2 separate regions of the Homo sapiens genome follow, and region 1 is reported to be linked to region 2. The links are microRNA targets in miRTarBase. Many come from high-throughput screens and were not tested one by one. Region 2 holds a microRNA gene; the other region holds the end of a gene's coding sequence.
What was found. The annotated mature microRNA hsa-miR-5197-3p reads AAGAAGAGACUGAGUCAUCGAAU and lies in region 2 at 7,518-7,540, shown strand. An mRNA with a match to its seed (bases 2 to 7 or 8) in the 3' UTR can be bound and repressed. Matches are read on the target gene's strand: a 7mer-m8 pairs with bases 2 to 8, a 7mer-A1 pairs with bases 2 to 7 and ends in A, and an 8mer does both.

Region 1 (14,368 bases), not on the chromosome of region 2:
AGTCTCACTCTGTCGCCCAGGCTGGAGTGTAGTGGCATGATCTCAGCTCACTGCAACCTCTGCCTCCCAAGTTCAAACGATTCTTGTGCCTTAGCCTCCCGAGTTGCTGGAATTACAGGCGCATGCCACCATGCCTGGCTAGTGTTTGTATTTTTAGTAGAGATGGGGTTTTGCCATGTTGGCCAGGCTGGTCTCAAAGTCCTAACCTCAAGTGATCCACCCGCCTTGGCCTCCCAAAGTGCTGGGATTACAGACATGAGCCACCACACCCGGCCACTGGAACTATTTTAAAGCGTATAATTCAGTGGCATTAAGTACTTTTACAGTGTCGTGCAGCCATCACCACCACCTAGTCCAGAGCTTTGATATCACCTCACACAGAAACCCTGTTGGGTTGATCGGACTCAACACCAGGTCATGGGGGTGACAAAGTCCAGCGGAGTCAAAGGAATGAGAAAAGATAGTTTGAGAGAGAAAGTGGGTCCAGGGGGCTGTCACTAATGTGTGGCGGTTGTGAAGGCCCCGAGCTCTGGAAGCCCAGGCTATTTATTGGTGATCAAACAAAGAAACAGGTGATGAGGATGTGGGGGTCGAAAGGGCAAGCGCATGATCTACAGCTGTGACAGTTTAGCATTTCCTTTGAAGCATTTGGAACATATTCTGCTACTTGAGATAATGGAGAGCAGGTTCTTTTAACTCAAGATACAATCGATCCTGGGAGAGCAAGGAGCAAGAAGCCAGCAAGTCTAGACACATTCAGAGCCACGAGCCCTGGATTCTATCCAAGCCACGAGGGGTTTTATGCCCTGGGCTTAGATTATGGTGTGTCAGGGTGGCCTTCCACCCTTTGGCACAGAGCTTGGTGTTCCAAAGGCCACAAGGCGTTTTCGAATCTGGACCCCGGACATGTTCCAAGACTCTTTTACATTACGTCAGACATGCAAGCCCTGCCTCAGCTTCTCTCAACACTTAGCTTTTCCCCCAACAAACCCCCTAACCATTAAGCAGTCATGCCCAGTGCCCCCCTCAGGCCCTGGCAAGCACTAATCTACTTTCTGTCTCTACGGATTTGCCTATTCTGGACATTTCATATAAATGGGATCATGCAATATATGACTTTTCTGTCTGGCTTCTCTCACTTAACATTTTTTTCAAAGTTCATCCATACTGTAGCATGGGTCAGTACTTATTCCTTTTCATGGCTGAATAATATTCCATTTTGTTTAACCGTTCATTTACTGATGGACATTTGGGCTGTTTCCGCCTTTGGTGATTGTGAATAGAGCTGCAGTGAACATCTGTGCACAAGTTTTTTTTAAACATCTCTTGTCCAGGATATTGGGCAACTTTTTGACAGGTGGATTCAACCTCAGATCCATGTTCCCACCCACATGACTCCCAATCAGTTCACTCCTTGTACCCTCAGTCAGTGCCAAGTGCCGCAGGGCTTCAGAGGAAAATAAAACCCACCGCTGCCCTCAGATGCATAATTGGGGCACAGAGCAGGAGCCACGACCTCAGCGTAGGGGAGCGTGGGAGGACTGCAGTGAGGCTGTGAGACCCCTTGGGGGTGGGACACAGAGGGCAATAGGAGCACTGCATGCAAGAAGACGCTTGTCTTGCATGAGCAGGGAGTCTTGGGTCAGCACGTGGGAGGAGAGAAACAGCAGCCAAGATGAGTCTGGGCCTGTGGGCTGTGCGAAGGGGTCTGGATCTGACCCTACATGGACATGAGGGCACTTGGAAGTTTAAGCAGGGGGCTGTCCAGATTAGACTTGATTGTTATAAAAGTAGGGCCCAGGTACTGTGGCTCATGCGTGTAATCCCAGCACTTTGGGAGGCTGAGGCAGGCGGATCACGAGGACAGGAGTTCAAGACCGGTTTGACCAACATGGTGAAACCCCGTCTCTACTAAAAATACAAAAATTAGCCAGGCATGGTGGCGCATGCCTGTAATCCCAAGCTACTCAGAGGCTGAAGCAGGAGAATCACTTGAACCTGGGAAGTGGAGGTTGCAGTGAGCCAAGATCGTGCCACTGCACTCCAGCCTGGGCAACAGAGAAAGATTCTGTCTCAAAAAAAAAAGAAAAAAGAAGAAAAGAAAAAAGTAATGGGGGCTTCTAGTCCAGAAAGAACAAGAGCCCACACTTTAAATCTCCACCCACTACTCCCCACAGGCAAAGCAGTAATAGATGCAGTGTCTCTTTAAAAACCCTAAGAGCCACACTCAAATATAAGATAAGCCTCCATGTAGACAGAGACAGGAGGGCTGCAGCAGCACCTGCAGGATGCTGCCGCCCCAGGCCTCGGCTCCAGGTCTATAAGATGCAGAGTCGCTTCACTTTGTATCAGAGTATAAAGAGGGCCAGAGCCAGACTCACTGCCCAAAGCAAGGGGCTGCATGAGACTCTCGCGGCCTTTACAAGAAGCCAAAGCTCTCGCCACCACCCAGGGCTACAACTTCTATAAAAATCTGTCTTTCTAGGGTAGCAGAAGGGAGAAGAGAGCCCCTCACCCAAGCCCAGGGCCACATTGCCCACCGACTCAATGTTTGGCTCTACCACATCCCCGATATAACCATGAGACCAAGCCCCAACTCAGTCATCTAAGACGGCATCAGGACTGGGGGCCTGGGTGTGGGGAAGGTTCCCCAGAAACTGCCTGATAGGGTGCAAAGGAGAGGAAAAATAGCTGCTCTGCACAGAATGAGAAGCTCCAACACACTTCTTTTTTAAATTATTTTTTAAATAGAGATGGGTTCTTGCTGTGTTGCCCAGGCTGATCTTGAACTGCTGGGCTTAAGTGATCCTCCTGCCTCAGCCTCCCAAAATGCTAGGATTACAGGTGGGAGCCACCGTGCCCAGCACCAACACACTTCTAAACAGAGTTCCAAAGGCAGAAATAGAAAGTAGAAAAGCATTATTTAAGGAGATCGTAGCTGAGAATTTTCTAGGATGAAGCATGAGCCCTTAAGCTGAAAATATCAAGCAAAATACATGAAAATAAATCCAAAACCTGGAGTGTTGTGGTAAAGCCTTAGAAATTGAAAAATCAAAAGAAACCTTCAAAGTAACCCGAGAGGAGAGGCAGATCATTTGTAAAGAAATGATGGCTCTTCTACTGACAGCAGACTTCTCATCAGCAAAAAAAAAGATGTGTGGAAACAGGAAAGAAATACCTTCAAAGCACTGAAGGGAAAAAAAAAACTGTCAACCAAGAATTCCACATTTTGCTACGTTGTCATTCAAGAATGAGGACAAAAGATGTACAATTTCAGACGTGCAGAAGTTGAGAGGCAGCAATCCAGACACTAGCTGGAAAGAATACAAAAGTCTGCACCAAGGAAATAGACATGAACCTGGAAGGAAGGAGAGGGCTACAGGACACAATTTTGAGCTAAGACATTGGTGCAAATATGTTAGGTGTAAGAAGCCATGGCCTGGGGCCAGTGAGTGTTAGCACCCTGGGAAAAATGGAGAAGGGGAGATGGTTCGCCACTGTCTAACACCACACTGCATTTCATTTAAAAACACCATCAGTTGTTAAGATATACTCTTATTGTATGTAACATTAAGAAAAAATAAATTTCCAAAATAAAGTGTCTAATAGGAGGCCCCACATAAAGCTGGGGCACATTAGTATAACAGCAAGCAAGACATGAACCCACCACGCAGAAAGGAGGAGCAAATATCTTGACCTTGGCATCCAGTGGACAGAGAGGAAAAAAAAAAAAAAAGCCTCACTAAAGAATTTGGCCAGGCATGGTGGCTCACGCCTGTAATCGAAGCACTTTGAGAGGCAGAGGCGGGTGGCTCACCTGAGGTCGGGAGTTTGAGACCAGCCTGACCAACATGGAGAAACCCTGTCTAGTAAAAATACAAAAATTAGCTGGGCGTGGTGGTGGGTGCCTGTAATCCCAGCTACTTGGGAGGCTGAGGCAGGAGAATCACTTGAACCCAGAAGGCAGAGGTTGCAGTGAGCCGAGATCACGCTATTGCACTCCAGCCTGGGTGGCAAGAGTGAAACTCTGTGTCTAAAAAACAGAAAAAGAATTTGAACCGCAAGCCAGTGCTCCTGAAGATTTGCAGCCAGATCCAGTGCAGCTCAAAACCTGAGGCAGAGAAGAGAGTGAGACATAGCCTTAGTTTGGTAGTGTCCCCAGGTGACATAGAAGGAAATGTAATTTCTTTCTGGAAGAACTCAGCTCCAGGCTGACAGCAGTTCTAAGATGCTTCCTGATTTCAACAATATTAAAATATTTAAACAAAAAAAAAGTGCATCTTAACATGGTTAAAACAGACCAACTGCAGTGCAGGCCCACCCTGTGGCAGGGGGTCGGGGAGGGTGGATCAAGAAAATATTTCAGGTGCAGAGTCAGTGAGAGGCAGCGATGCTGCATGTTCAGGGAGGCAGAAGCTGGAGCTAAGGTAAGTCCAGGGTTTCCAGGGCTGAGCAAACTGATGAAAAGTCAGGACTTTCATTCATTTGTTGAATATTGGAGCACCTGCCTGCCAGTGACTGTGGCAGGAGCCAGGCAGCAGCAAGGAATACAAAAGTGCTTCAGTGAAGATGTCAGCTGGGGCAGAACCAGTTCACGTTAAGCATCTACGGTGTGTGCTGTCGGGCGCAGGCATCAGGATGTGGATGTGATTGTAGGCCCTGAACACTCCTGAATTTTACAACCAGGCGGGGACCCCAGGGTAACACAGTACATCACTTAGCACAGCTGGCTGCTGAATTGCATGGCAGAGGCCCGGAGAGAATGGGCGAGGGAGTCAGGGACAAAGGAGGATAGCCAAGTGTGGAGACAGAGGTGCAGCCAGACCCATGTGTGCAGGGGACTGAGCCCACTGGCTGGAGGACGACTGGGCATCCAGAAAGAGCAAGAAATGGATAGACTCCAAGGGGAGAGGGGCCGACCATGAAGGGAGCCTGGGAGGACTGCAGTAAGGCCAGGGGGCAATCAGGAGCAGTTGCAGATTCTGAGTTTAAATGTGGAGTTTAAGGACCTTGGCTCCAGCAACCGTGTGGAGGATGGTTTGGCAGACAGAGGGCTGGGGCCCGAAGACCATCAAGAAAGCTGTATTGGATGAGGGTGGGGGTGGAGTGGGGGTGAAAATGAAGCACATGGGCCTGAAATGAGACAAGGCAGAGGAAACTGATGGTGTCTGCAGTGACAAAGAGGGAAAAAGGGGAATCGGGTTTCAGGAGTGAATGGCCATTTTACTGGGCACGTGTTAGCCCTGGGGCCCCAGAAAGGTCATGAGGTGCAGGTCCCTGTTGAAAGCTAAGGAGGAAAATGGCTTGCAGATGGCTGCTTAGGAGGTGGGGCTGCAGCAGAGAGAAGAGCACTGGGCCCAGACACGCAGGAAGAAGAGAGGCCATTGTGGGAAACTGAGGTGCTGTTAAAAGAAAACCCACAGTGTCACGGAAACCAGGCATCAGCAGTAGCAGCCTCTCAGCAGGACAAGGGGCCAACCTAGAGTCCCCTTTTGCTGTGGTGACTCCCAAGAACTGTGATGGCTCACCTGGGGGAAGGTTCTAGAAGCTCCCAGCAGCAGCACTGCCACCCTCAGAATGCAGGTCTTCACCAGGCAACATCACATTAGGTAAGAGAATGCCCCTAGTCATTATGTGGATAGGTGCTTATACCAAATACCAGGGTCACAGCCCTTGCAATAACTTGACCCTCATCCTTGACAACTCTGGAGAACATTACAAAGCATTATGGCTACAAGCTGTGTTATTCATTTCCAGTTGCCATGAACATACTTTGTTTTGGACTGAAATGTCATCGTGCACTACCCTGAAAGTCATTTTTTACTTGATTGGATGTTTGACATTGCCAATAGGAACATATTCCTTTTATTTAAAAATGACTTTTGGCTGGGTGCAGTATAATCCTAGCACTTTGGGAGGCCGAGGTGGGTGGATCACTTGAGGTCAGGAGTTCAAGACCAACCTGGCCAACATGGTGAAACCCCATCTCTACTAAAAATACAAAAAATTAGCCGGGCATGGTGGCGGGTGCCTGTAATCCCAGCCACTTGGGAAGCTGAGGCAGGAGAATCGAATCGCTTGAACCCGAGAGGCAGAGGTTGCAGTGAGCTGTGATCGAGCCACTGCACTCCAGCCTGGGCAACAGAGGGGCATCCTGTCTCAAAAAAAAAAAAAAAAAAAAGACTTTACATTAGAGGAATACCATTCTGCTAGTAACATGATTATACTTTTAAAATATATGAAATAAATCAGCCATGACTGTAACAAGCCAAACTCTGTCCGGCATACAATAGCAGCCAGGTGCTCGGGAAGATGGCACCATGCAGGCAAGGCCCATCTCCAGGGTCCTTGGTTCTCAGCAGAGCAGCCTCCAGTTTTAGGGGCATCATTGTTCAGTCCAAAGAGGGACACTCTGCTTCTGGTGCACAAATATACGTGGTCGTAGAGTCAGCACGCATGGCGGGCCCCTACCCAGGGCCTCGGTGTATTGTGTGGCCTGGGTCCTGCACTCAGGCGTTCACGTGTGATGACACTGAGCCCCGTCTAGGCACTGGAAGGCAGGGAGCCTACAGCCTCCCCTGATGGACGAAGGGGTCCCTTGGATTTGGCTTCTACCCATGTGAGGAAGTGCAGTCAGCACTTCCCTGACACTGTGGACATTGCCAGGAAATACTTATATAAACTAGGTGGGCATCATAGATTTCCAGTCAGTCTTTCACCTCAACCCCACACACAGCTCTGGAATACGGCGGACACACGTTTCTGTTACAAGTGCTGCCCCTAGTGGCCACGGACCCTTGCTACGCCGATTCCTGGGTTCCTGGAGGGGCACAGGGCGCAGACGGGCAGCGTGGGGGCAAGCATGGCTCATGGCTGAAGCTGCAGCTGCCTCAGGCAGATCCGAGGGAACTGCTCCCCTGGGGAGTCCCACAGGGACTTCCCTCGAGCTTAGCAGCCACGGGGCTTTATCAACTCTGTCACCAATGGGAACCACATTTAGGGGAGTAAACAGTAAAACAAAGGAGTATGACAGAAATTGTGAGACAAGGCTGGCCTAATTCAGTTTCACAGCCCGCTTTTGAAACCCCACTCTCTGCAGGGCATGTGGAGATCATCAAATGGCAGTCCCTGTCAAGGAACTACACAATCAAGTTCAGTGGTTCTCAACTCATAGAAGGTCCTAAAATCACATAAGCATAAGCCCCTGCACCAGACCTACTGAGTCAGGACCTCTGGGTGGTCAGTACCCTGACTCTGTGGGGCCCAGGCACAGCTATTTTTTAAAAGCCACAGTAGGCCAGGTGTGATGGCTCACGCCTGTAATCCCAGCACTTTGGGTGCCTGAGGCAAGAGGATCACTTGAGCCCTGGAGTTCAAGACCAGTCTGGGCAACATAGCAAAACCTCATCTCTATAAAAAAATTTTAAAAATTAGCACATGCCTGTAATCCCAGCTACTCGAGAGGCTGAGGCACTAGAATCACTTGAACCCAGGAGGTGGAGGTTGCAGCGAGCTGAGATCGCACCACTGCACTCCAGCCTGGGCGACAGAAAAAGACTCTGTCTCAAAAAAAAACTAAAAATAAAAAAATAAAAATAAAAGCCACTGTATTCATTTCCTGTGGCTACTGTAACAAATTACCACAAAGTTCGTGGCTTCAGACAACACAAATTTGTCTTCTTACAGTTCTGGAGGCCAGAAGTCCACAATGAGTTTTAAGAGTCTAAGATCCAGGTGTTGGCAGGGCTGGTTCCTTCTGGAGGCTCAGGGAAGGATCCCTTCCTTGCCTTTTCCAGCTTCTAAGCTGCAACATTCCTTGGCTCCTGGCTGCATCGTTCCAATCTCTGTCTCCTTCATCCCACGGCCTTCTCCTGCCTTTGACCTTCTTGCCTCCCTCTTATCAGGTCCCAGGCTCACCCAGACAGTCCAGGATCATCTCCCCATCTCAAGAGCCTTCACTTAATCACATCTGCAAAGTCCTTTTTGCCATGTACGGGAACACCCACAGGTTTCAGGGAGGAGGACGTGGATGTTTTGGGATGCCATTACTTTACCTGCCACAGCCACCAGAGAGGATCTGATGTGTCCCTTTAACTAGGAACCATTGTGAGGAGGTAGCCCAACCCAGGGACTACTTGGCAGACCATATGAAAATGGCGCATCAGAGCAGCATTAAACGCTTCTACCCAAAGCTTGTGCTAACTGTGCAAAGCAATACAGCCCAGCTCTTGCTCTCGTTAAACATAGTCCACATCAGGAGCACAGGATGCTGCCCAGCCAACGTCTCTATCACTGCCTTATCTCCAGATCTAACAGGTACCTGATGAGGTTAGGCTATAACCTAGGAAACCTTAGGAAATAACCCGCGGCATTTTCTCTCCTATGTCCCAGCCGCCGTCAGCCAATCCAGTGGACTCGCAGCCAAATTTGTCATCCACTGTCACATCCCTCAGTGGGGCTCCGACAAATGTGAAGAACAGCTTGAAGAGACCATCAAAAACTGCCTGTCAGCGGCGGAGGACAAGAAGCTAAAGTCCGTCGCGTTCCCGCCTTTCCCCAGCGGCAGGTAAGATGCAGTTCCCCTGAGTTGATTCCTCCGGCTTTTTCCCTGGAAATCAGCTGCTCCCCCACTTACATCTGATCTGGGTGTTGCCAAGGGCTGCCAGCACAGCCAAGTATGCTGACCAGATGACAGGGCAGGAAACCCGGTTTTCATCCTTCAGAAACCATGGGGAAGCGAGCCCACTGGCTCCTAGGCAGCAGGTCTTCCCCGGCTGGGGCCAGCCCCAGTGCCTCCTTGATGTTAAAGCCCCAGGAGGAAGGCTAGCCCAGGGGAGGAGCGGGAGGCAGAGGCCAGCTGGTGTGTTATTTTTTGAGAGCCTTCCAGGTTCAAAGTCCATATTCCCACCAGCTGTCCATGTCCAGGACACATGATCAGAAAACGCCAGGCTCGAAGGCCTTGCTACTCAAAGTGTGGTCCATAGGCAGCAGTGACCGATGTCAGAATGCAGAATCTCAGGCCCCCCATCTCCGACCTCTGGCTCCAGAATCCCCAGAGAATTCCGTTGCTGCTCTGGGAGACTGCAGAGCCAGGAGTTCGAGGCTTTGATGAATACACCCAGAGAAGTGAAAATCTGTCCCCGAGTGATTGCTGAAAAGGAGACTGGGCAATGACTGGATTGTCACAGATCCCAGCTGGGCATTGTTTCAGATACATAATGAGGATATCTGCTGTCACATAAAACATATCCTTTCCCTTCATGCCCCTAGCCAATCTATTGCTTTAATTTTGAACACCCTCTCACCTTGAGAGCTGTCCTTTATAATATAGCTATGGTTTATAGCTGTGTCCTGGGAAGCCCAAGAGGAAAATAATGAGACCTAGGTTCCTGCTGTAATCACACATCAACCTAGGCAAGCAGCATTGAGTCTCAGCATTCCAGGCCCAGAGATGCTGTGAGATGCATTCTTTCGTCGGTGGAACCACGGCAGTGCTGTTCTGTGCTGGAATACATGCGATTGGGAAGAATTCCTATTAACAGGCCCCTCCTGGACCTGCTCCAGGGGTCTCTGTGGCTGACCCCTAACGACCATTCTGGCTGTGTCCCTGGAAGCTGGTGCTGTGGCCCAGCCTGGTGGATGGCACTATCAGTAGCTCCCTGGAACCTGGGGCCTTTAACAAACTTTCATTAACCCCGCCATGCCCGGAGTCACAATGCTGAAATTACATGGGCCTGTGCCTATGAAATATTAAGTGCATAAAAAAGGACTTACGAAGACAGGTTTGGAGCATACATTTTTGCCCTTTACTAAGCAATTGGGTTAGTATATAAACCAGTTTGGAGGGAGCTAATAAAACTTCTGTTTGCTTGTTTGAAGACCAGGTATTTTTAATGCTGAATGGCTAGCATTTTTAAAGCCAAGCTTGACTTGGTCAGGTGACATAGAATCAAATATAGGGAGCTGGCACGGTGGCTCACGCCTGTAAATCCAAAAGCTTTAGGAGGCTGAGGCAGGAGGATCATTTGAGGCCAGGAGTTCGAGACCAGCCTGGGCAACATAACAAGACCCATCTCTACAAAAAATTTAAAAAAAAAAATTTTTTTATAGGCACACGCCTTTAGTCCCAGCTACTGAGGAGGCTGAGGCAGAAGACAGATAGCTTGAGCCCAGAGGTTTGAAGCTGCAGTGAGCTATGATCACACCACTGCACTCTAGCCTGAGTGATGGAGCAAGACTTTGCCTCTGAAAAAAAAACTAATTTAAAAAAAGTATAATAAAAAATAAAATACAGGGCACTCTTCACTTGGCCAGCCCTGTGACCTTGACTAAAATCATTGTGCTTGGCAGGGCACGGTGGCTCACACCTGTAATCCCAGCACTTTGGGAGGCCGAGGCAGGCGGATCACCTGAGGTCAGGAGTTCAAGACCAGCCTAGCCAACATGGTGAAACCCCGTCTCTACTAAAAATACAAAAATTAGCCAGGCATGATGGTGCGCACTTGTAGTCCCAGCTGCTTGGGATGCTGAGGCAGGAGAATCGCTTGAACCCGGGAGGTGGAGGTTGCAGTGAGCTGAGATCGCGCCACTGCACTCCAGCCTGGGCAACAGAGAGAGACTCCATCCCAAAACAAATAAATTAATTTAATCAAATTAAATCATTGTGCCTCTCCGAGTCAGTGTGACACCTATAAAGTGGGGGCAACATGCCCCACCTGCCACCCCCAGGCTGTCCCTTTGGCTAGGGTCAAAGGAGATCATGCATGGACTAGCCCTGCACACAGCAAGGCCCCACCCAGTAAAAACAAAGGCACTTCATGCTCCCATGGGTCCCAGGGACCAAAATGACATCGGCTCTTCTTTTGCTTTGGCACAGAAACTGCTTTCCCAAACAGACTGCGGCCCAGGTGACCCTCAAAGCCATCTCAGCCCACTTTGATGACTCGAGCGCGTCCTCGCTGAAGAACGTGTACTTCCTGCTCTTCGACAGCGAGAGCATCGGCATCTACGTGCAGGAGATGGCCAAGCTCGACGCCAAGTAGCCGCCGCACTTTCCAGCAGGGATCGGAGGACGACCCGAGTCCCAAGAGTGGGGTTTTGCTTTTTAAAAGGAGAGAGGAGGGGTGATGGCAGGGGAGTGGAGGGTGGCCGGGCAGGTCCTGCCGGCGCAGGGAGCCCTCTGCCCTTCACACTCTCCTCCAAAAGAGCCTCCATCTGTAAGGAAGCAGGTCTCCGCGAGGGGTTTCTTTCCATGTGTTTTCCTCCTGTTGTTTTAGAACTTTTTTAAAAAAACAGACCTCGTTTTAGATTTATAGCATTGACTTTTACACACATTCACACAAGAAAAAAATCCTTTCAAAATTCTTAAATCTTCTGTTCCTCCTTTTTCCAAGGGAAGAGGGCAAAAAGTGGCCTGGGCTCTGTTGGTGTGCGTGTTCCGTGGCGGAGAGAAGAAAATGGGAAAGACATCTCACTGGTGCTTTTCTCTTTTGTTTTAGTGCCCCCCGCCCCCATCCCTATAATATCTGTAACTACTCCTAAAAAGGTTTTGATTCAGGCTTTTTTTTGGTTTCATTTTGTTTTTTTAAGAAAAAGAAAATGAAAGGAAAAAAATAAAAGATCCAGTGTCTTTCTTACAACATATTCTTTTATTGCAACATTTTCCTCAGTTTGGAAAACTGTGTCCCCACACGTAGGTCCTTCTAGAATATTGTAAGTCAATAGAAGAAGGCCTGTCGCTCACACACTGGGATTCCCACCTCGCTGGACCCCAGGTCAGATAGCACCAGGGCCTGTGTTTCTTAGGCCGAAGGTCCTGCCTCCAGGAAGGTGGGCTTCCCTTCGTGGTCCATAAAGAAAGACAGATACTTGGATGCAACCACCAGGGGAACAGCCATCCTCCAATAGAGGCACACGACTCACTTAGGCCTGGGCGACAGCCCCAACGGGATGGCCTGAGAACCCCAGAGAGGCTGGTGTCCCAAGGACTCTGCCCGAGTACCCAGAGGCCACCATCAAAAGGGAGCAGGGAGGGGCAGGGTGGGGAGGTGGGGCCTGAATTTCTTCAGATGAACTCATCAACCACTTCTGCTATGCAGATTTAACCCAGGCAGTCCAAGAGGGGCTCCTCTGGATTGGAAGATCTCTCCCAAATAGAGGAATCATTTATACACTGTAACATAGTCGGTGGCAGACATTAGTGCCCAGCTGGGCCTCCAGACAAGTGACCCTGGGGTTGGCCAGGAAACCAGAAGCACAAAACCACAAAGTCCCTCAAGGGCCCTCTCCCCATTCCCAGCATCAGCTGGAGTTTTGTCACTTACAAATCTGCCCATAAGTAACCTAGAAATATGCTGGGGGTCACCCGCAGAAACCCCCTCTGCTCGCTAATGGGTAAGCAGATGGCACCCCGCAAAGAGTCACATTATCTGCCCTTCCTTAAACACCTCCAATGGCTGGCAGGCCAGGCTGCAGTCTCAACCCCTGCTAGCCGTGTAAAAATGCACTCTGTCAGGGTGGGGTAACCAGAAGAGCACATTTATCTAGCTCTTTCTTCTTAAATGAAACCTGTGGTATGGAGTAGGATCTAAAAGTGGAAATGTGCTGGCCGCAGTGGCTCACGCCTGGAATCCCAGCACTTCGAGAGGCCAAGACGAATGGATCACCTGAGGTCAGGTGTTCGAGACCAGCCTGGCCAACACAGTGAAACCCCGTCTCTATTTAAAAAATACAAAAATTAGCCAGGCATGGTGGCACGTGCCTGTAGTCCCAGCTACTTGGGAGGCTAAGGCAAGAGAATCACGTGAACCCAGAAGGCGTAGGTTGCAGTGAGCTGAGATCGTGCCACTGCACTCCAGCCTGGGTGACAGGGCGAGACTGTCTCAAAAATAAATAAACAAACAAACAAATAAAGTGGAAATGTAGGAAGGCCATGAGGCTTAAGGAGCACAGGGATTATGCACCTGTTAGCAAATTGAAAACAAGGCTCCTGTGAAGTCCCTGGTTGTTGCAGAATGTATGGGCTCCCCGACCGTGTGATGGCAGAGATTTGGGGTGCTGGGCCTCTCTCCACCTCAGGTCCCTCCTTTGTTCTCAATGTGCAGCTCTCCTTCCTGCCCTCACAGACAGACACTGGCCACCAGAGCCCAGCAATCTGCCCTGCTCTGAGAGCTCTAAATGGCACGCGTCATGACCACAAGCACGTACACACACATGCACATCCCAGAGGAGGCAGGTGCAGAGGAAGGGCTGGCTGTGGCCTCCCCAGCACCATGCAGCCAGCACACATGAGCCGCTCACCCAGTACCACAGCAAGCACACCTTCCAAACCCAGAAAGTATCCTCTAAGGGGGGTATTTGTTTAATACCTCTCTCTCTCCCATTTTTGTTTTATACAAGTTGCATTTCTAGCCACCACATCATTGGCATCTTATTCCAGAAGAATAGCATTAGTTCTAGCACTTGCCAGGCGGGTGCCATGCGCCAAGCAGTCCGTACGCCCACCTGCTGCGGTAGTTCTCCCGCCTGGCCTCTCCATCAAGGTGGAGACTGCCTCATGGTTTTCCAGCTCGTAGAGACGAACAGGTCCCGGCTCTTGGTCAGCCGAACCATGAGCCGGCCCACATAGAAGCCACTGATTTGGCCCACACCGTCATTTCTCCCCATGGACAGGAGGAACGTCAGTGCACCTGCAAGCAGAGACACAGAAACAACCAGAACCTCACTGAACCGCCTGGGGCTGCACCTCCCAGAGTGCCGATCCTTCCCGAGGCCTTCAGACTCAGGGCCGGAAATGTGAAATCGCTTTAGGAAGGTGGGTGAGACCCTGATTTTTTTTTGTTTGTTTTTTTGAGACAGAGTTTTGCTCTTGTTGCCCAGGCTGGAGTGCAATGGTGTGATCTTGGCTCGCTGCAACCTCCACCTCCTGGGTTCAAGCCATTCTCCTGCCTCAACCTCCCGAGTAGCTGGGATTACAGGCATGCACCACCACACCTGGCTAATTTTGTATTTTTAGTAGAGACGGGGTTTCTCCATGTTGGTCAGGCTGGTCTCGAACTCCCGACCTCAGGTGATCTGCCCGCCTCGGCCTCCCAAAGTGCTGGGGTTACAGGTGTGAGCCACCGCGCCCAGCCTATTTTTAAAGAGCTCTAAGGGGATGTTTCCATCACCAGCTTGGAGAGTTTGTTCTAGTGGCCAGGTATGGGATAGCCCAAAAAGGCTTCCCCATGTTTAACCCCAAACTCTATTAAAACTGCAAAGCACATGGGGCCTCTCTTACCCGGCTTGTAGGCCTGGAGAGGCCGCTGCTTCACAGAGTTGACGATGTTGGCCACGGCGATGTTGGCGTGGAGGCCGGCAAGATAGGCCA
Region 2 (17,431 bases):
TTTCAGAGCTGTGTCCTCATTGTTCAAACAGTCCAATAGCCGAGGAGGAATTTCATAATAGCGGATCTCCTTTGCTTGCTTTTCTTGGATGCTCTAAAGAAGACTCATGTATTAGAGTAACCCTGCTTAAAATTCCCTTTTTCTCACCATTCCTCTCCCCTTGCTTACTGCAGCTTCTTTGGCAGCTTGCTCTGCCCAAAAGAAGATAGGAGACAGACAGACAGACAAACACACAGGCATACACACAGATGCGCAGATGGACAGACAATAAACTTTTCCTGGGGATGTGAAGGTAAGCAAACCAACAAAGTAAAGATTTATTTAAAATGGCCCCCATAAAGAAAGTAGAATTTATGATGTGATACTATTATGTAAAAGTATAAAAATTACTGAAAAAGTGGCCCATAAATATGAAAAGAACAAAAATAAAATTTGCTCCATTCCCTCAAGCCTGGCCAAAGCCTATTTTCACCTCTTTTGCTCAATTTTCTCCCAGTTCTGAATATAAAAGCCCAGAAAATCAGGGAGAGAAGCTCTTTGGAGCTTATCAGGGGTGGGAAGAGAAACTGAGTGGGCAGAACAAGAATTGTTTTGAGAGTGTAGGGAATGAGTGGGAACACCTCCTGCCTTTTGTCTATCACATGAGTGGAAGCACTTAAGGACAGCACAGAATCACACTTTATGTGTATCACAGCCTTAGAGAGATTGTGGCAGGTGTTGTACTGTTTCTCAGTTGAACACTTTGAAGCAGAGTTCATTTGTATATTCATGTATCCATCCAAATAGTTTTGAGTGCAAGGCACTGTCCCTGTATGTTATTGGTGGTCACCAATTACATGGCAGTTCTTTGGCTGGTTAATAACACCTTTATCTCTACTATAAAGATGATGATGATGATGTGTAGTGTGTGTTCAATTCTGTATTAGACATTGTAAGTTTCAAATATATATACACATATATACTTTGTGACTGGAGAGCCCTAAATAAGAGGGAATACAGGAGGAGAAACTTTAAGAAACAGAAGTTGGGTTCTGGGGAGTGGTACATGGTTCTAACATTTCAGTGAGAAACAACTAAAAGTACTGTAAGAATTTTATCAAGGATCTATGAAGTTTAATACATCCCTACAGCTAAACTCTCTGAATCTCTACCAAAAGCTCAATTTGTTGGACAGTCACTGTTTGTTGAGGACCCCTATCTTACATATCTTTCATTTCCTTCCTAATCCTCTCCTAGCCTAATGTGAGCAGATGCTTACTTGCTGTAGAACTTCAGAGCTACAGGTGGCTTTAAACACCAACACAGACAAACCCCTGAATTGTAGATGAAAATTCAGGAACCTGTCTGGACCTTCAGAATAGTTTCCTGATTGACTGTTCAGCCTCTAGCTCCCCAGGTGGTATGTAGCCCCTATATCCCTTCTAGCTTGGCTCATGTGTGTTCATCTGTCAAGTTTCAGGTGGGTGGCCCTAAATGAACTGACTCCCTCCTGAGGCCCAATCAAAGTTAGGTCTCCCTTCTAATTCTCCATCAAAGCACTCCTTGCATAGCATTTGCCACCACTTAAAATTAAACTTTAATTTTTGTGACTATTTTATAACATCTATCTTCTAACCAAGCTGTGAGTGCCATGAAAGCGAGAATTAGTCTGTTAATTCATCACCACATCGCCAGTGCCTAGCATAGCCCCAGCACAAAAGAGCTTGGTGAATATTTGTTGAGTAAATAAGTGGTTGGAAGGCACACACCCGAGCTGTCTTTGTACAACACAAATCTGTTTGTCTTTCTCCTGCCTAAATTCCTTCTTTAGTTACTCACTTTTTAACAGTAAAGAAAAACATGTTTTAGCCTGATTAAAAAGAGCTACCACAATTTGGCTTTTTGTCTAAGCTCCTCAGGTCCCTTCAGACCTCCAAGCCTTTGCATATGCTGTACCCTCAGAGAAATGCCCTGCCTGCTGTTTCTGCCCAAGTGGGTAAGCACCTTCCCTTCCATCACCTTCTTGGTGAAGCCCAGACTCTCCAAGAAAGGGCTAGTTGGTTGGTTCTTAATGTTTCCACAGTGCTTTGTCAGTATTTCTGTGAGAGTAGAAGGGTGGCATACTTTCTTTCCCAAACTTGTCCCTGAATTCCTTCCACTTCCCCCCAAGGCTGTTGTGAATAAAGGAGTGGCCGAGGGTGACACGCAGCCAATGGTTGGTCCACCAGCTGCCTCTGGCAGCTCCTTGTTGCTGTCTCTCCTCCCAGATCTGTCTCCTTTTATTTTCCTGGTCTTTCTTGTGATTTCCCTCTTTGTCTTTTGCAGGGTCCTCATTCCCAAATTTCTCTCCTATTATGTTAAGTGCACTGATATTGCTGTTTTTGTTTCTCCTTTGAGAAATATGATGCCTGGGAAGAGGCAGCAGCTCACATTGCACACCTAAATAGTTCCAGCAAGGCATTTTCCTGAATACAAAGCTTTTTCTCCTGAGGTGGATTCTGCTTTCCCCTAGCCTGCAAAAAGAAGGCAGTCAAGTTTCTGGCTTTAAATGGTAACTTTTCTTTCCTCTTTTAGATGCTTTAGAACCTAAGCAGAAACAAGTGTCTTTTATAAAGCCACTTCACTTTGACATCTCAGATTCTCAGCAGGCTTGGCAACAGTGGCTTGCCCATTCATCTCTGGGACCACTTTTGAAGCCAACTCTGTGAAGAGCTGTATGAACTCTATGAGGCTCTGTAAAGAAAGGCATCATTAGGAAGGAGATGTTCTTAGCAATGGCTCTGCAAAGTTTAAACTCCAGTTTCCTCATTCTGTATTCAGAACAATTGCTCTTAAAGTATTCGCTAAGGACAAGCATTTTCTTACTCCCATACTCAACAACATGGGAAAACATGGGAAAAAACCAAGCCCTCCTAATGAAGACCAAGCAGCTGGACCTGCATTGCTCTAGTGTTACCTCTGTTTGGGGTTTCCTCTATTGCTGGGAGGCCAGACACTTAGTTGATTAACTTTGTACTTAATGAATAGGGTTGTCATTTTTCCAGCTGTTTCTAGGAGAAACTGAAACAGGATTGGAGATTTTGAAAATTTGTCACCTCCCCCCACCACCAAAAAAATCCCAATAAACTTGTCTGTGGCCTCTTTTTATCATTTCCATCCTTTCTTTTGTGAAGTCCAAGGGATATGAAGCAGATGGAAAAGAGGATAGGCACAGAGAACGTGTGCACAGATATAATATGGGTAAATTCTACTAACCAAACAAGCAAAAACCAAGCTTTAATTAATTCAGTTACATTTAGATCTAGTGCTTTTTTACTGAAACAGAGCCACTGAGAAAATATGACATGATAACACTTAGTAAAACCTCTGAACACATGAAAGTCCTTAAAACAGGATTAGCAATGGATAATACTACCTTACATTTATATAACACTTGGCATATTTCAAAAATGTTTCATGACCAGTGAAAGACTGAATGTCACATTATTTGGGAAAAGAAAAAAGGGAGGATGTTTCTATTACAATTTATGGATAAAGAAGTAGTTTTGGGGTCCAAGGTCATATGATAACTTAAATAAGAAGACCCTCTCTGTGGCAATTAGCATTATTTTAAAAATTGTCAACAGATACTAGAGAGCTTTTTTTTGAATTAATCTATCTTACATTCTATCCCGATAAATAAGGAAAAACAAATCATTTGAAGAAGAGAAAAAAAATTTCTGTTTCCCTTGAAATGCATTAAGTGTAACTGTAGTCATGAGAATCTGAAGATGCAAAATCTGAAATTAGCCAATATTAGAAACTCTGAGTACAAACTTAAATTGATAAGACTTAAACAGTGAAATACACTTTTTGTGTACTTTTAGATTAGTATGCCAATTTTGATCTGCATCAAATGATCGACATTTATGTTGCATTTACACATACATTTACAAACACTATTCTATTTAATCTCATTTTTTTTTTGTAACTGACAAATTTGCTTTTATGGAAAGAGACTTCTGGAAGACAAAAAAAAAAAAAAAGGATCCAGAGGAACCCACAAAACACCTTTACACAAAGTCTAAGACCACAAAAAGGCCTTACAAAAGACCCTTATTACCCAATTCAGGGCATGGGCAAGGATGTATAGGAAGACATACTTAGCTATGAAGACAAAGTGTTTCAAATGAATGGTTATAGTAATCCATGATTAGCTATTGGGTAAAACTTAGGCCCACTTAATTATAGATGGATAAGGGGATATGTACATTTCAGCATTCTATATATGACTCGGAGATTTATGAGAAACCAATTCCCCAAGCTTTTAATATTAGTGAACAATAGCTATCATATACCTATATCAGTCACTCATGCACACATTTACCCCATCCCAACCACAAAAAGACATTTTTTCATTTATCCTCTCAACTTGAATTCTATCTAAAATCCCTTGGTACCAGAGGTTGAAAGCATCAGGTACTAAGTCATCCTCCTTGCTAAAATTAAGCTGTCTCTGTATACACAAATGGTGACAGCTGAAATGCACTCTGGGTCTCTGCTAATAGATCCTCCATTTAGATCTTGGACAACTGAAGGCAGGGCATGTTGACCAGGGATCTTTCGGCTCTGGAATCTCCTGTCTGTCCTGGTCTATCAAAGCTCCACTTGCCACCTTTCTGGGCTTGGTGCCAACCTTGTATTTTTAGACAAATAGAGTAGTACTCTGAAGTTGGAATTCTAAAAGTGTGTCTTTTTTCTTAAAAAATTGCTTTATTCAGAGCTGGTACTAGTTGTTCTCAATCATTTAATGTATTTTATCACCTTAAACTAATTATTTATTTAATGGATTTCTCCAATTTTTAAAATTATGCCTATTGCAACATGCTCTGGGCATGAGTACAGAAAATGAACACATTAATTATAATAAAACATTCAAGGGCTGAAACAAATGAAAAGAAGAGAGTTAACACAGGCTACTCAACATCTGCCATACACATATATACATATAGTACCTCTTTCCCATCCAAAATGCACCTCTATAGTCTCTAATACCTGCCTGTTGGGAGCTGGCTCTGCTTGAAACACTTTGGTGAGAACAGGCAAGAAAATGATGGCGTCGTGGTAGTGTTCTCGCATTCTCTTCACAGCATTGGCTGCCGCCTCTGCTACCCTCTGAAATGCCTGTATATCACCTCTCAGAACATTTTTAGTTTCACACCACAAATAAGACGAACATTAATTATAGGTTGGAAAAGGGACTGGAATGCTGTGGCGGCACATTCCATTTTAATAGAAAGGGTCTGAGGGAATGTGCTGTGCACCTCCAAGCTTGCTCTTATTGTTGAGTACTCCTTTTCTTTTCCCATGTTATTTTTTTCTTAGCTTTTGTTATTACTTTTAATTTATGCCACTTTAAGATCTTAAAATTCTGTGAGTGAGTATGAAGATAACATATTGTATGAAAAGGAATATATTTTAAAATATGTTTTTGACACATTAGAACCTTAATTGTAATCCAATTTGATGGAGCAAGGATCAAACTTCTTGACCCATGATTTGATCAGCCAAGTGGTTTATCTGGGAAGACTTGCTTTAGATATAAAAGGTGAACATTTCCCTCTTAGACTTACATCCCTTATTTCCAACTTGCTATTTAATTTGGATAAAGTTCTTGGTTATTTTACATGTGCTGTTGAATATCTTCAAAACCAAATGGGTTCACTTTCAAAATAGTAAAATGTAAATTTGTTCTCTTAACACTCAGCCTCACAACATTCATACTGTAACATTTTATGTTATTTAATATGGCTTTTAAAACTTACATTAGTAATGTGCTAATGAGACCTTACAGGCTTTAATTCATTACAGAAGATGCAATAAAGACTAATATGAGTAGAGCTTCCTAGGCAACCAGGAATCAGATTTTTTTCTAATGTAAGAAAACTGGTCAATTTTCTACTCTATTGATGTTTGCCATTACAGTAATGAAGCAGGTTACATTTTCTTTGTAATAAGATGATTAATTTGGTTATTGACTTTCTGTTTCAATTTCATGTTTCATTTAAATGATTTGAAAATACAGGTTCTGTATTTTTCCACTACATGCTTGGGTCAGATGTAAAACATTTATTCTATTTGGTTCCCAACTTTAATATCGGAGAGGAATTTTTTTGTTTTTTTCATACTTAGAAGCCATTACACAGATAAAATTATCAATTGAGATTAATAGCATAGAATGTCACCCAATACAAAGGGAACTGGGTATTCATCTCAAAACTTGAATTTGAATGTGGAATCATACAGATAGAAAAATTCTGAGACAGCAGAAGAACAAAAAGTCATCATCTTTTTGTGTGAGTCACTTTCTCCTGAGACCATACCCTACATTTTGGAGGCAGATTGTTTTTTTCAAGCCAGTTACTTTATAGAGATGGGAGAGTGTAGAACTTCAAAATGCCAATGCACATGACCTTCTGATTATATGGACTTGTATAGTTTTCTGAATGTAGGTCTTATACTTCCATAAATTGATGGTTCCTCGAGAACAGATGGCATATTTTATACATCTTTGTATGATACCTAGCAAAGAGCCCTGCACAAAGTAGGTGAATAACAAATGTCTCTGTTAAATAAAGTACCATGAGAAGCATAGATGAGAGAGAGGTAAGGAATGAGGTAAGAGGTTCCAAGGACATGTCTATAAGTAGGTACTTATATTTGTTGTGTACTTTATTTTTATTGAAAGACCCTCTCTAAATCCAAATAGTCATCTACTCAGGTCTGTGGGATACAACAATTCCCCGATTACTTGGCTTAACATTCCTTCCTGCAGAGCCACTATAGGGGTAAATCAGGGATGGTCAAGAGGATTCATTCCTTATACCAACCAGTTATGTAGAATTGGTGGTGATCCCTTGGGCTGCAGTATGGAGAAAGCAGCTCAGACTATTCCTGAGCCCAGTGAAAAAGAGGACAAGATGGCCATCTATGAGCTGGATAATCAAGACAGTCCTGTCTGCTTGGTAGCACGACCCTTCTCCAAGATTTGCCCCTCATCCTTCTTTCAAAGCCCAGATCAAATTCTGCCTCTTCAAGATGGCTTTTCAGATCCCCACCTTCAAGCTAGCACCCTCCCTTTCCTGCTTGTATAGCAAACTATTCTAGCCTTTATTCTCATATTTGTCATAGTCTCCTCATCCATCTATTTCTCTCTACCTACCTAGTTATTCATGTCAATTCCACTAGAGTAGTTTCTCGTGGGGAGGCAGGGATAATCTCTTTCACTTTTCTGTCTCCTATGTGCCCAGTATAAATGGGCTTTACTTATAGGATACGCTTCATAAATGACAATGAAGGAAACTGAACAGCAGACTGATTGATGGAAGGTCACCCAACAGATCATTACAGTGATAAGAGAAAACTGATGGTATGTTAGAGAAGTAGAATGTTCTGTCACTGCAGATTGACCCTGATCTACAGCTAGGGAAGAACTGTATGGGATTCCACAGACAATGAGTATCAATGGCACAAACTCATTCTTGAATTTTTGCCAGTTCAAGAAGAGACTGAGTCATCGAATGCTCTAAATGTCACTTCACCTCATGTTCTGTCAACACAGAGGGTAACTCAGAGTGGCCAGTTCCACTCAACCATCCAAGAAAACAAAACAAGAAAAGCAGACATTAAAAGAGGGCAGTGTTCTGCACTTCACAGGTCTGTGACCTTGGCCAAATTACTTAACCTCTGTAAGCCTTAATTTCTTCTTCCTGTGTAACATGGAGATGATGGTATCTACTTACAGGCAAGAGTTGAGATAATATATGCAAAATTCTTGGCATGGTAGAATATTAATTGAACTATGAAGATGATTGTATCCACTATTCCCTTTTCCCTTCTTGGCTATTTCATTTCCATTCATGTTACTTTGTTTTATATATACACTGCTTTACTGTGTATGAGAAAAATGACTGTCCACTGGTAGAAATATAGCCTGAGGTTTTTTTTGTTTTTAATTCTCTCTCTCTCTTTTTTTTTTTTTTTTTTTTTGAGATAGAGTCTCACTGGAGTGCAGTGGTATAATCTTGGCTCACTGCAACCTCTGCCTCCCGGGTTCAAGTGATCCTCCCACCTCAGCCTCCCAAGTAGCTAATACTACATGTGTGTACCACCATGCCTGGCTAATTTTTTGTATGTTCAGTAGAGACAGGGTTTTACCATGTTTCCCAGGCTTGTCTGGAACTCCTGACCTCGGGTAATCCACCTGGCTTGGCCTCCCATGGTGCTGGGATTACAGGCACAAGCCACCGTGCTGGGCCTTTTTTAAATTATCTAACCCTAGCCCCTGAATTTTTAAAACCACCATGGAACATCACTGGAATGAAAATGGAGACCATGTGACTTCTTCAGCTTTCCAAAGAAAACAGGTTTACTGATTATACGCAGCTAGAATGGTTGGCATAATTGTTATGAATGACAAACCCTTCAATTCATTGATGTGTATGAGTCAGTGATGTTGGGATAAATGTCTTTGGATACACATTACACAGTGCTCCCAGATGTTTATATTCCTTCCCACTCCCTAACCTAATCCTAAAATATTAGCTCTCTAGACAAGAGCATAAACTGAAAACTCATATTTGCTCTTAGGACTCTTTACAATCATTTTCACATGTGATTATCTTGGTGTGTACATAGAGTGGCCATCTTTGTTTACAATGAAGACGCGAAAGCCCAAAGGTTGGCTAATGTAACCATGGAAACCAAGCTAATAAATGGTCAAATCTGTACCAAGAATAATTCTAGAGACTTCAGTTGCTTCAGAGATGGATGAGGTAGGAGTTTTTCTCAGAGGGATGCAGGTCTGTCTGTGGTCGCTTAGTTGGGTTGATTCCCACATAGTATTAATGAGCATATGGAAAGATAACAAAAGCAGCTAACACTTATTGAATACTAAAGTCTGAAGTAGCGTGCCAAGTACTTTCAGGCATTATCTCTAATCCTTATCACAAGTATATGAGGTAGGTACTATTATTAGACCCACTTTCTAAATGAGAAAATAAGCTTGGACTAGTAAGTAATTTGTTTAAGGTCATTCAACTAACAAGTGGCAAAGGATAAAAGTTAAATTTAAGTTTACCTGACTCCCAAGTTCATATTCTTTTTTTTTGAGATGAAGTTTTGCTCTGTTACCCAGGCTGGAGTGCAGTGGTGCAATCTCAGCTCACTGGAACCTCCGCCCCCCGAGTTCAAGTGATTCTCCTGTCTCAGCCTCTTGAGTAGCTGGGATTACAGGTGCATGCCACCATGCCCGGCTAATTTTTGTATTTTTAGTAGAGACAGGCTTTCACCATGTTGATCAGGCTGGTCTCGAACTCCTGACCTCGTGATCCACCTGCCCCAGCTTCCCAAAGGCGTGAGCCACCGCGCCCATCCCCAAGTTCATATTCTTAACTAACACAGACATTGCTTCTATCTCTTAGTCACCTAACATTGACTCTTTCTGTTTCATGACCAGATCTTATACTCTGATTTTTCCCCTGCTTTTGAAGAAATAAAGGTGGGAGGCAGTGGAATGGGGAAGACAGGGAGAGGAAGAGGTTGGGGAGGGAGGGATGGCTCATTCAGTGATTGTGTGCCATCTATATTCATTCATTCCTACTATGTGCCAGGCATCACACTAGATGCCAGGTCTCAGCTGTGATAAAAAATAACTTTCTTGTTCTTATGAGGCTAAATGCCCCAGGGTCCTACACCCACTTCTCCTAGTCAGTCAAATGTGTGTGGGCTTTTGAGGGGACAAGGGTGCCATGCTGTGGTATCACCCAAAGCTTTCTCTAGATAAGTGGATGTGAGAAAACCCAACAGCTGAGAGCAGCTCAGAGAATGTTTATGGAAATATGTAACTGTTTCTCTTAAAGCCAATCCTGAGTCCCCTGTTTTGACTTTGGGTACGTATAATGTACTACATACTCCCTTCCCTCTGTGTGAAGCAGATCATATTGCAGCCCTGAAGTTATGTGTGGCTGTAGTGAAGCAGCAGGCATAACACTCTGCTGTTGGCTGGTAACTGTTTCCAATAACAGACAAGCTGCATCAATGCAGGGTTTGGAATGCAACGTAGGACATAGCTAGGGGCCTCCTTGTTTTCTGTCACTAGGGTGGAGGGGGCCCTAAGGCAGGGCCTGGGTGGGCCTCTCTTCCTAATAACTCTTCTAATGAATCTCATAGCTGTCCTGGGAATTAGTTCTACCTTCTTCCTATCCATGGTAGGATTGATTTCCTTAATAGCCAGTGACTGCCTGTCATTAAGAGCTCTGGGACAGGGAAGAATGGGGACAACCACAGACCTCCTCCCTGCAAAATATGTTCAGTGATTGTGACTCACTGCATCATCTGGCCCCATAGAGCAATTTTCCAAATATTTCTCCTCAACATCTCTTTCCATCAAACTAAAATGTCAATTTTTTTTTAAAGCTCTGATTAAAGGATAAACAGTTTCATAATGGGATTTGAAAGCCTGGGCAATCATATCATTAAAAAAAAATTGGCTGCCAAGCAGCTTGCTCAAATGACACCAGGCACATTGCCTAGTGAACTTTAGGTGAATAGGCGATGGAGTCTGTCTGGGCCTGATTTGCAGAGACTTCTTAAAGAAGGGAATCTGCTGCAGGCATGCAAACTACAGCAAGACTGAGCTGTGCATGGCTAGTTTTAGGGAAGGCTCCAGCTTGGGGAGCTTGGAAGGTGGTCTTTATCAGCCTGCCAAGATATCTGTGTGGAATCACGCCCACCATTTCTTCTCCCAAAGAGACAGATGAACAGACTCCACTATGACCAATGCAATATGGTGAACAGATGTTTGCCTCACACAGCTGAAGTGAGCTGGCTTTCCAGAGATTTAAAGGAAGGAGAAGGTGTCTTGGGAACAGTGTTCCCAATATTATGATCCCAATCATAACTCATTGCTACCACTCCAGGATAGGGGGGCAGGGGCGGAATATAGTTCTGTGTCATCCACCAGTGGCTCCTCCGGGTCAAAATCCAGATCCAAGAGAATGTAATTCATGAAGCGATATTTACTAGATAGCTTCACCTGGGCTGACTGTGACATCACTAGCATGTTTAACCCTTCATTTACATTTACTTATCCACACTCTACCCTGACTCATATCCTTTGTTTCCATAATAAACTTTTAGCAACTATTGACATTCATCTTTCCCTGAGCTCACCTTTTTCCTGAATTGACCCCAACAACCTGTGAGACGGCCAAAGGCTTTTGCCTAGTCTTTGAGTCAGCTGAATACACAGATGCCTGAACCTATGCCAGTGCATCTTTATCATATTTGTAGTCCACCTGCTCTTTGTTTATCAGCTGTCTGTACACACATAAGATAACTCTGCATTCTCCTTACTTGAGTTGCATCAGTCAGTAGTGTCTTTTGTTACTGCCTAGGGTGAGCAAAGAACATTACCTATAGTGAATGAGGAACACCTTTGTTCATGCCACAAAATCCATTTTGTCTTTTTTAAGAATGCACCTCACTTTAAGTAAACTTAATATATGAAAATTTAGATTCCAGTAAGAAAATTCAAGTTTCACATAGCTTTTCAGGACCTCACTTGGCTACACAGAGCAGTGATTCTCAAGGAGGTTGATTACACCTCCTCAGAGATGCTTTAAAAATTTGTGGGCTGGGCACGGTGGCTCACGCCTGTAATCCCAGCACTTTGGGAGGCCGACATGGGCGGATCACGAGGTCAGGAGATCGAGACCATCCTGGCTAACATGGTGAAACCCCGTCTCTACTAAAAATACAAAAAAATTAGCTGGGTGTCGTGGTGGGCAACTGTAGTCCCAGCTACTCAGGAGGCTGAGACAGGAGAATGGCATGAACCCAGGAGGCAGAGCTTGCAGTGAGCCGAGATCATGCTGCTGCACTCCAGCCTGGGCAACAGAGCAAGACTCCGTCTCAAAAAAAAAGAAAAAAATTGTGGTGGCATTTTTGCTAGTCTGAATGATTGAAGTGATGTGACTGGCATTTAGTGAGTGGGCCTCAGGGAGGCTAGATAGGATAGTTTTATACAACAAAGAACTGTCCCAGCAGGCATCCTAGAGTCTCAAACTTAACTCTTTCAGACATAATAAAAAATATTGTATACAGGTTTAATATAGTCTAAATTTTTCAGGAATGCAACTACTTTATAAATCAAAGGAGATTGTATTTGATTTGTTTGGAACTTTACCAAGAGGTTTTCATCATTTGGGGGAAAAAAAATCACATCATGGACAGCAATGCAATAAGAGGTTTTCAAGTGTCCAATGTAACACACCTGCATCCATCTGCATTGGGCTGTGCATTCATGGTAATACTATTAGTATTAGTAATAGCAATATCCATGGTAATAAACTGTGTCTTTTTTTTTTTTTTTTTTTGAGATGGAGTCTTGCTCTGTCACCCAGGCTGAAGTGCAGTGGCGTGATCTCAGCTCACTGCAACCTCCACCTCCCAGGTTCAAGCGATTTTCCTGCCTCAGTCTCCCAAGTAGTTGGGATTACAGGTGCATGCCACCACACCCGGCTAATTTTTGTATTTTTAGTAGAGACAGGGTTTCACCATCTTGGCCAAGCTGGCTTTGAACTCCTGACCTCATGATCCACCCGCCTTGGCCTCCCAAAGTGTTGGGATTACAGGCATGAGCCACCGTGCCCAACCTAAACTGTGTCTTTTAAAAACTGTCTTCTAGTGTTGTCATGCCTGAGGATTTTACTGATGAAATGTGTTATTTTATTACAAATTACTTTTATCTCTCTTTCATATTATATATAGAGTACTTATTTTAAAAATTTTGTATTGGTTATATAATCTATAAATTTCTGTGTAGGATTGTAAAGAAACTGTTATTACCTTTTATATATACAAAGAGGACTTTAGGTTTTATGGAGATGAGAACCATTGGCCTAAAGCAACATCTGTCAACTATTCAGACAGAAACATTTTCCATTTGCACAAATAGAAGTGATTTCCTCTGTGCTAGATGAAAACAGTGGGGCCAAGATTTTCAACTTGTGTTATGGAAAGTCTGGAAAATGTGCTCTATTCAACAGGACTTTAATTTAGTCCGCCACTGATCAAACAATTCCTTTCTATGCCTAGCTTATTTTCATTCCAATATTTATTGATTCTATCACTGTGCTGGATATTGCAAGGATTAAACAACTCAGGGCCCTGACTATCTGGAAGCATAGACTGCCCTCTCTTGGAAGGCAATCTGCATGAAGAAAGGCATACTTCACAAACTTGGTACCCACAACTTTGACACCCAGGGCATCAAATGATGTTTCTTTTGATGAAAATTCTGAAATGCCCCTGAACCTTTCTTACAACACCATCAAGGTAGTTAACATGCAATGCTGGGGTTCTCTAAATCACAAATATCAGGTGGCCGATAAGGACTATATATTCTAAAAGAGAAGAGGAACGAATTGACTTAGAGGAGTAGGAGGAGGATGGGCTTTGGAGTTGGGTAGATCTGGGTTCATAGCTTGGCTCTACCACTTACTGTCTTACCTTGGGAAGGCTCAATTTCCTCCTCCCTAAAATGGTCATAATACCATCCGCATCACTAAGCTGATTTGAGGGTTAAATTAAGTCATAAACATAAAGTCATGGGTAGAACACCTGGCATATAAAAGGGACCAGACAAAATGTGTGAATCACCATCATCCCCCTTTCCTTGGGAGCTCTTAGATAAATCCTAGGACATGAGAATCAAAAGCGACCTTAAAAATGATCTAGTCAAATGCTCCACTAGACTACATAAATCTTCCTCTGTAGATTGTGAATGAAAAACTTCAAGCCTGCATGTTTTCTTCTCTTGATCAGTGTTAGCTAATTCTATTTTGGTTACCTAAATATCTTAAGAGTTGTAGAAAACAGAGATATAGATCAATGGAACAGAACAGAGCCCTCAGAAATAACGCCGCATATCTACAACTATCTGATCTTTGACAAACCTGACAAAAACAAGCAATGGGGAAAGGATTCCCTATTTGATAAATGGTGCTGGGAAAACTGGCTAGCCATATGTAGAAAGCTGAAACTGGATCCCTTCCTTACACCTTATACAAAAATTAATTCATGATGGATTAAAGACTTAAATGTTAGACCTAAAACCATAAAAACCCTAGAAGAAAACCTAGGCATTACCATTCAGGACATAGGCATGGGCAAGGACTTCATGTCTAAAACACCAAAAGCAGTGGCAACAAAAGCCAAGATTGACAAATGGGATCTAATTAAACTAAAGAGCTTCTGCACAGCAAAAGAAACTACCATCAGAGTGAACAGGCAACCTACAAAATGAGAGAAAATTTTTGCAACCTACTCATCTGACAAAGGGCTAATATCCAGAATCTACAATGAACTCAAAGAAATTTACAAGAAAAAAACAAACAACCCCATCAAAAAGTGGGCAAAGGATATGAACAGACACTTCTCAAAAGAAGACATTTATGCAGCCAAAAGACACATGAAAAAATGCTCACCATCACTGGCCATCAGAGAAATGCAAATCAAAACCACAATGAGATACCATCTCACACCAGTTAGAATGGCAATCATTAAAAAGTCAGGAAACAACAGGTGCTGGAGAGGATGTGGAGAAATAGGAACACTTTTACACTGTTGGTGAGACTGTAAACTACTTCAACCATTGTGGAAGTCAGTGTGGCGATTCCTCAGGGATCTAGAACTAGAAATACCATTTGACCCAGCCATCCCATTACTGGGTATATACCCAAAGGACTATAAATCATGCTGCTATAGACACATGCACACGTATGTTTATTGCAGCACTATTCACAATACCAAAGACTTGGAACCAACCCAAATGTCCAACAATGATAGACTGGATTAAGAAAATGTGGCACATATACACCATGGAATACTATGCAGCCATAAAAAATGATGAGTTCATGTCCTTTGTAGGACATGGATGAAATTGGAAATCATCATTCTCAGTAAACTATCCCAAGAACAAAAAAGCAAACACTGCATATTCTCACTCATAGGTGGGAATTGAACAATGAGAACACATGGACACAGGAAGGGGAACATCACACTCTGGGGACGGTTGTGGGGTAGGGGGAGCGGGGAGGGATAGCTTTAGGAGATATACCTAATGCTAAATGACAAGTTAATGGCTGCAGCACACCAGCATGGCACATGTATACATATGTAACTAACCTGCACATTGTGCACATGTACCCTAAATCTTAAAGTATAATAATAATAAAATAAAAATAAAAAAAGAGTTGTGGAAAAATATGAAAACATTCAAACTTTAATTTATTGAAATTACAATAAACTCATCCCCTCTGCAACCATCTTCCTCCATCTGCCTAACCAAATAGCATTGAGTCATGTAAACAGAGTGAGTGGCCAGCTCAGATGTGATATCTACTGTTATCCATTTCTCTTTTAATATTTGAGTGCTCAGCATGTTAAGCCAAATTGCTGCATAGAATATCCCCCAATTCTTCTGTGTATTCCAGCTTGAAGTAACAAAGAATGAAATAGAAGAAACAAATTTATTCTTTGTGTAAATACAAGATAATTTACAGTAAAATTCTTTTAAAATTCCTCAAAGTCCACCCCAAACAGATGGGTATTAGATGGTATTGAATGTGTGGGCCAAAGCAGCTTTCCTGGGATAGGTCCTTGATAGCTTTACCTCCTTCCTGAGAGAGGCCCTGCTTATAGATTATTTCCTCTTTTCCTTAATTAAATATTGTGAATTTTCTTGAGAGAATAAAAAATTCAGCATAATCGATGAGATTAGGGGTCTCTAACATTCTTCCACCTAAGCATATGGCTTGTAGGTATAGACTCTGTCTCTAATGTCATTCTACCTACAATCAATTTTCTCCCAGTAACTAGGCCTTCCTGAGAAATACAGTTATCAATAGGAAAATTTCATTGCAGAAGAGGAAAGACGTAGCATAATAAAGTGGAAGGCAGTATATATCCACAGACTGGGTTTCAAATGAGATTCTTTGACCTAATGTTTCTCTGGGAATAATTAATTCATTGGTCTCTGCATAGTTTTCTCATTTCTAAAATGGGGGTAATTTCTGCTTTACCTTTATTATAAGGTCTGTGAAAGGGCACAGTATACCACATAATGCTAAAAAAATGTAAAATGTTAAAGATAATAGAATAGGGGTGGAAAAATCCAAGATAGGGAAACATTTCCTAACCTTAGGAAAACATGAGAAATCTATGCCATTCTTGAGTGATGTCTTGTAGTCATTCTTTGAGTTAAAATTTACACATTAAAATAATAACACAGCCACTCCAACTTTCTTATGTGTACAGTTTGAGTACAACATCTTCTTTCATCCATTTACTTTCAGCCCATATCTGTCTTTATATTTAAAGCATATCTCTTACAGGCAGCATGTTGTCATGTTGCACTTATCCATTTTGAAAATCTCTGCCTTTTAATTGTTCAGTCCTTTAATGTTTAATGTAATTCTTGTTATGGTTGGTTGAATCAATGATTTTATTTTATTTTCTACTTCTCTCTTGTTTTCTATTCCTTTTTCTTTCCTTCCTATACTTTTGAATTCTTAAATAATTTTTAGAAAGATATTTTTATTGGCTTTGAAGCTGCATTTATTTGTGTTATTACTTTTGTGTGTGGCAGCCCAGGGATTACAATATACATCCTTAATTCTCTACTGTCTATATCCAGTTAGTATTTTACCACTCATGTAACTCATAGGAGACTTGTACCCATGTAGGTCCATATCCACTCTTCCTTCTTTATGCTACAGTGGTTATTTGTATCACATCTGAATACCTTATAAACCTAAGACAACATTATAATTTTCACTTTAAACATTTATATGGTTTGTAAATAAATTAAGAGAAAAAGAAAATAATTTAAAAGTAGTCTTTTGCGTTTTTCCAGATATTTCCTACTTTCAGTGCTCTTTAATATTTTCTGAGGATCTAAGTTTCCATCTGGTATCATTTCCTTTCAGAAGGATAAATTCCTTCAGCATATCTTGTAGTTCAGGTCTGCTGGTGAAAACTCACTTTAGTTTTGTTCCATGCAAAAATGTCATTATTTAGTCTTCATTTTGCGGGATATATTTGCTGGGTAATAAATTCTGGTTTGACAATTTTTTTATTGTCTCTCAGTACTTTGGAACTATTACTCCATTCTCTTTCAGCCTTCATAGTTTCTGCTTAGAAACTGACCATTAATCAGATCACTGTTTCCTTGTATAGGGCTTGTCATTTTGTATAGGATTGTATAGGATTGTCATTTTTCTCTTCCTGCTTTCAAGATTTGCTTTTTATCTTTGGATTTCAACAATGTGAGTATGATGATCTGTGGTGAGGGCTTCTTTATGTTTATTCTGCTTGGTTTTCATTTATCATAATGTACCTGTACATTTTA

Region 1: miRTarBase lists AIFM2 as a target of hsa-miR-5197-3p. Seed matches in the 3' UTR shown: 7mer-m8 at 12,527-12,533 and 7mer-A1 at 11,722-11,728.

What each region holds. Positions count from the first base shown.
Region 1 is chr10:70,100,642-70,115,009 of GRCh38, forward strand. AIFM2 (AIF family member 2) reads right to left here. Exons shown (of 9, transcript NM_032797.6): 8 at 14,279-14,368; 9 at 11,630-13,688. The coding sequence ends at 13,537. MACROH2A2 (macroH2A.2 histone) reads left to right here. Exons shown (of 9, transcript NM_018649.3): 8 at 8,392-8,566; 9 at 10,877-11,641. The coding sequence ends at 11,042. Among named protein-coding and RNA genes, the nearest start is that of AIFM2, 25 kb to the right of the region's middle. RefSeq lists an enhancer at 6,845-6,924.
Region 2 is chr5:143,672,406-143,689,836 of GRCh38, forward strand. MIR5197 (microRNA 5197) reads left to right here and starts at 7,455; the gene lies at 7,455-7,566. It overlaps LOC105378210 (a long non-coding RNA gene), which reads left to right. Exons shown (of 3, transcript XR_944377.3): 3 at 174-4,004.